Homo sapiens: one gene and its partner. The protein of the gene in region 1 purifies or fractionates together with the protein of each later gene. This does not show direct contact. Each region holds a gene or a part of one and is shown in the gene's direction. Other genes may lie near its edges.

Region 1 (2,672 bases):
GAAGCAATAATTGTTCCATCTTGGATTATCGGTTTTGCTCTTTGATTTGGTAAAGTTTTTGTTTTTCTACTCGTGCCAGTTGTATTAAAATGTCACTAGGTTAAAAACAAACACAGATATGTTTATTCATTACTGTATCCCTGTAATAATGCCTGGCATGCAGTAGGTCCCTAATATTTGTTGAATGAATGAATTATAGAATAGAGTGCAAAATTAATTCTAATGTATTTTAAAGTAAAGCATGAGAGTTCAAAGAAATGTTGTATTTGCCATCTACAACTTGGAATAATGTTCCTTGATCCTGCTTTACTTCATGCACTTTTGCCAGCAGAGGTGGATGCCTTAGGGAAAAAGTTGGATAAATGCTGATCTAAGGCAACACGTCTAAATGGTTATGTGAACATTTCCCAGTTGGGGTAAAACTAAGAGGAGTGATAATAACATCTCATCAATTTAAAGGACAAGTTCACTGATCGTACTGTCATACTCCAGAGATACATGTGCCAAGAAGCAAAGAGATGCACTCTTGTATTCCAGAAAGAAGATGATTTGTAAGTGTTCAGTATTTGTGTGGCAGCCCTTTTAGGTGTAATGAAGTGTAACAGAAAAGTAAGTGAACTACTTCACATAGCTCTTAATGTTTGTCTTTCAGAGGACATACGAGTCAGGCAGCAAAAGTTGGAGCCATTGTATGATTGTGTGTCAAAATGAGAGTCACACACTTCAAGAACTGTAGGAACTAATTTTAGAAAAAGACTCTTCAGAACAGATGACACATGAAATGTGAGTTTATGTAAACATGTAAATTTGAGTAGCATTAGTTTGTTTTCTGTTTAGGAACTGTATCAGGGTGACAAAGATGAAAGAATGCTGCCAGAAAAGTATATTGTTAAATTTTCAGGCCTCCATTGGTGAAGTTTCAAGTAACCTTTCACTTAAGTTACTTGTGTCAGAGGATGGATGATGGGGTCATTTAAATTGTTGGACAAAGCCATGAAAGGACTTTTAAAATTTTGTCATAAAAATAGCCAATGATGTTTTTAATTTTACATCTAAAACTAATTTGCATTATCCTGTGTTAGTGACTGAATCTCAACTCAGTCCTCATTTTTTAGTTCAACTTTTGACAACCTTATATTCATTGACACCATGGACAGCACAGTAAAAAAATACACAAATTTCTTTTGCAGTTATTGATTTGGAATGATCACTTTAAAAGAGCCATCAAATACGCCTACATATTGAGCCACTCTTTATCATTAAGGTGAAAAGTTCATTCAATTAAGGTATTTGAGTGCTACTATGCGCCAGCCTTTCTTTGTGATAATGTTAATTTTTTTTTTCCTCCCCTCCATGAAGGGAAGAAAAAAAAATTAATTCGGCCATGAATTTTAATATTCTGGCCAGCACCTTATCCATTTGTAGCCACGCCAACAAATTTATTCTGTGATATACCAAACTTACAAAGTCACTCTGCGATTTCAGTAAGGCCCATTCCCAACATGAGTGCTGCTGTCCACGGTACTGAACCATCAATGCTAAATGGTATTTAGTTGTGGATCTTCATCCTGTCATGCAGCTAAATATTCCAGGAATACTGAACCAAGTGAGGAGAAAGATAGCAGTGGGTTGCTGCAAAGGAGGTGAGGGGAGGGGAGAGATAGCAAGTGAGAAAAAGAGAGACTAGTGGTGATGTTTTTAAGTAATTGAAGTAAAAAAGAGAGAGAAAGAGAGAGAGAAGAGGTTCTACTCAGTCCACCAAAGCTTTTTAATTTCCTTACATAATTAACATGATGAATTTTTAAATAATTGTTATATTTAGTTTTGTTCTTCCACCTTTTGGCTATTTCTACTACATATTTACTTATCATAAAAAATACTTCCTAGACCTTCCTCTTATAGCTATTGCCTATCTCTGCCTTTGCAGCTGTTCTCCTTTAAAGAGTAGTCTCCATTAGTTTTCTTGACTTCTTCATCTCCCTGCATAAAGATGAAGGGTATTTAGCTCTGAAAATCCTTTACTGTTGAATATTTAGATTGTTTTCAATTTTTACATAATGAACAATGCATCATGGGATTATTGGCTGCAAATAAATTGGAAACATAAAAGGTGTTTTAAGTTTAAATTTTTTTAAAAAAACAGGTAAAAATAAAATATTTGCCAAAGACTAAGGGTTGCAAAGCTACCTCATGATACACTCTTATACCAATACTAAAATAAACTTCACAACAACAAAATTAGTGATTGGGAAATTACAGTTTTGATGAACTTGGCATTTCAATCAAAGTCATATTTGCCACCGTTCTCTCAGTAGCTTTAGGCCAATTTCCAAATTGCTTTCGACAAATTAGTTTTATTTGTTTATATTATATTATATATATATAATATACATATATTTAAATTATATTTATAATTCTTTCAGTCAGATTTCCTGGAGAACAATAGTTGTTAGGTGCCTACCAGAAAATAGGACTAGAAAGTCATGTTGGAGCCATATTGTGGAAGTCCAAGGAAGTCGGATGGGAGCAAAGGTCATTTCAATTATATATCAAGCTTATATTCTATGGAAACTAACCCCTTCCTAGCACATATATTATTGAAAAATTATTCACCTGCTATTTTATCAATGTCATTTATAAATTAAAATTTTTCTTATTATAACTATACCTTA
Region 2 (3,500 bases), on another chromosome or scaffold:
TTCTCATAATTTAGCTCTCACTTGTAAGTGAAAACATATGGTATTTGGTTTTCTATTCTTGGTTTAGTTTGCTAAGGATAACAGCCTCCAGCTCCATCCATGTTCCTGCAAAAGACATGATCTCATTCTTTTTATGGCTGCATAGTATTCCATGGTGTATATGTACCACATTTTATGGCTGCATAGTATCCCATGATGTATATGTACCATATTTTCTTTATCAAATTGCTAATTGATGGGCATTCAGGTTGATTCCATGTCTTTGCTATTGTGAATAGTGCTGCATTGAACATCTGTGTGCATGTGTCTTTACGGTAGAATGATTTACACTCCTCTGAGTATATACTCAGTAATGGTATTGCTAGGTTAAATAGTAGTTCTGCTTTTAGCTCTTTGAGGAATCACCATACTGTCTTCCATAATGGTTGAACTAATTTTCACTCCCACCAACAGTGTATAGGTGTTCCCTTTTCTCCATAACCTTGGCATCATCTGTTATTTTTTGACCTTTTAGTAATAGTCATTCTGACTGGATAGAGATGGTATCTCATTGTGGTTTTGATTTGCATTACTCTAATAATCAGTGATATGGAGCTTTTTTTCATGTGCTTATTGGCTGCATGGATGTCTTCTTTTGAAAAGTGTCTGTTTATGTCATTTGCCCACTTTTTAATGGGGTTGTTTGTTTTTCTCTTGTATATTTATTGAAGTTCCTTATGGATCCTGGATATTAGACCTTTGTCACATGCAGAGTTTTCAAAAATTTTCTCCCATTCTGTAGGTTGTCTTTTTACTCTGTCGATAGTTTCTTTATGCTGTGCAGAAGCTCTTAAGTTTAAATCTCAGTTGTCAATTTTTGCTTTTGTTTCAATTGCTTTTGGTGTCTTTGTAATGAAATCTTGGCCCATTCCTACATCCAGGTTGCTATTGCCTGTGTTGTCCTCCAGGTTTTTTATAGTTTTGGGTTTTATGTTTAAATATTTACTCCATCTTTAGTTGATTTTTGTGTATGGTGTAAAGAAGGGGTCCAGTTTCAATCTTCTGCATATGGCTAGCCAGTTATTCCAGCACCACTTATTGAATAGGGAGTCCTTTCCTTATTGCTTGTTTTTATCAGCTTTGTCAAAAGTCAGATGGTTATAGGTGTGCAGCCTTATTTCTGGGCTCTCTGTTCTGTTCCATTGGTCTATGTGCCTGTTTTTGTACCAGTACCATGCTGTTTTGGTTATGTAGCCCTGTAGTATTGTTTGAAGTAAGGTAGTGTGATGCCTCCAGTTTTGTTTTTTTTGCTTAGGATTGTCTTGGCTATTCAGGCTCTTTTTCATTTCATATGAATTTTAAAATAGTTTTGTCTAGTTCTGTGAAGAATGTCGTTGTTAATTTGATAGGAATAGCATTGAATCTGTAAATTACTTTGAGCAATATGACCATTTAAATGATACTGATTCTTCCTATCCATGAGCATGGGATGTTTTTCCACTTGTTTGTGTCTTCTCTGATTTCTTTATTTGAGTTTTGTAATTCTCGTCATAGAACTCTTTCACCTCCCTGGTTGGCTGTATTCCTAGGTATTTTATTCTTTTTGCGGCAGTTGTGAATAGGATTGCCTTTCTGATTTGACTCTAGGTTTGGCTGTTGTTGGAGTATAGGAATGCTAGTGATTTTTGTACATTGATTTGTATCCTGAAACTTTGCTGAAGATGTTTACCAGCTAAAGGAGCTTTGGGCCGAAACTATGGGGTTTTCTAGATATAGAATCATGTCAATTGCAAACAGGGACAGTTTGGCTTCCTCTCTTTTTATTTGAATGTGCTTTATTTCTTTCTCTTGCCTAATTGCTTCAGCTAGGACTTCCAATACTGTGTTGAATAGAAGTGGTGAGAAAGGGCATCCTTGTCTTGTGCCAATTTTCAAAGGGAATACCTAGTTTATTGAGAGTTTTTTTTAACATAAAGGGGTGTTGAATTTTATTGAAAGCTTTTTCTGTATCTATTCAGGTAATCATGCAGTTTTTGTCTTTAGTTCTGTTTATGTGAAGAATCACATTTATTAATTTGCTTATGTTGTACCAACCTTGCTACCTGGGGTTGAAGAATACTTGATTGAGGTGGATTAGCTTTTTGATGTGCTGCTGGATTCAGTTTGCAAATATTTTGTAATTTTTGCATCACTGTTAATCAAGGATGTTGAACTGAAGTTTTTTTGTTGTTGTGGCTCTGCCAGGTTTTAGTATCAGGATGATGCTGGCCTCATAGAATGAGTTTGGGAGGAGTCCTTCCTCCTCAGTTTTTTGGAATTGTTTCTGTAGGAATGATACCAGCTGTTTGTACATCTGGTAGAATTCAGCTGTGAATCCATCAGGTCCTGGCCTTTTTTTAGTTGGGAGCCTAATTTATTACTGATTCAATTTTGGAGCTCATTATTGGTCTATTCAAGGAATCAATTTCTTTCTGGTTCAGTCTTAGGAGGGTGTATGTGTCCAGGAATTTATCCATCTCTTCTAGGTTTTCTAGTTTGTGTGCATAGAGGTTTCTGTAGTAGTTTCTGTTGGTTATTTTTACTTCTGTGGGGTCAGTGGTAATGATGACACCCTTCATCATTTCTAATTGTGGTTTTTGGGGTTTTCTCTCTATTAGCCTAGCTAGTAGCTTACCTATCTTGTTAAATTTTTTTTTAAAATCCATTCTTGGATTTGTTTATCTTTTGAATGGATTTTCTTGTCTCTGTCTCCTTCATTTCAGCTCTGATTTTGGTTATGTTTTGTCTCCTGCTATCTTTGCAGTTGATTTGTTCTTGCTTCTCTAATTCTTTCCGTTGTGATGTTAGGTTGTTAATTTGAGATCTTTCTGACTTTTTGATGTGGGCATTTAGCGCTATGAATTTCCCTCTTAACACTGCCTTAGCTGTGTCCCAGATATTCTGGTATGTTGTATCTTTGTTTTCATTAGTTTCAAAGAACTTCTTGATTTCTGCCTTTATTTCATGATTTATCTAAAAGTCATTCAGGAGTATGTCATTTAATTTCCGTGTAATTGCATTCTTTTGAGCAAGTTTCTTAGTCTTCTGTTTTTATTGCACTGTGGTTTGAGAGTGTGTTTAATACGGTTTTGGTTCTTTTGCATTTGCTGAGGATAGTTTAATGTTCAATTATGTGATCAATTTTAGAGTATGTGCCATGTGGCAAGGAGAAGAATGTATATTCTGTTGTTTGGGGGTAGAAAGTTCTGTAGAGATCTATCAGATCCATTTGGTTCACTGTTTAGTTTGGGTCCTGAATATCTTTGTTAATTTTCTGCCTCAGTGATCTGTCTAATACTGTCAATGGAGTGTTGAAGTCTTCAACTATTAATGTGGGTGAGTCTGTGTCTCTTTTTAGGTCTCTAAGAACTCGCTTTATGAATCTGGGTCCTCCTGTGTTGGGTGCATATATATTTAGGATAGTTAAGTCTTGTTGAATTGAACCCTTTGCCATTATGTATTGCCCTTTTTTTGTGTTTTTT

Evidence for each region.
Region 2: the proteins of RWDD1 (region 1) and DNAJC1 purify together in Homo sapiens (affinity purification with mass spectrometry, with the first as the bait; one large-scale study listed by BioGRID). This does not show direct contact.

Annotation. Positions count from the first base shown.
Region 1 is NC_000006.12:116,595,504-116,598,175, forward strand, and holds the end of RWDD1 (RWD domain-containing protein 1), read left to right. Parts: 3' UTR 1-2,172; downstream 2,173-2,672. UniProt on the Homo sapiens protein: Protects DRG2 from proteolytic degradation.
Region 2 is NC_000010.11:21,885,231-21,888,730, reverse strand, and holds part of DNAJC1 (dnaJ homolog subfamily C member 1 precursor), read left to right. Parts: intron 1-3,500. UniProt on the Homo sapiens protein: May modulate protein synthesis.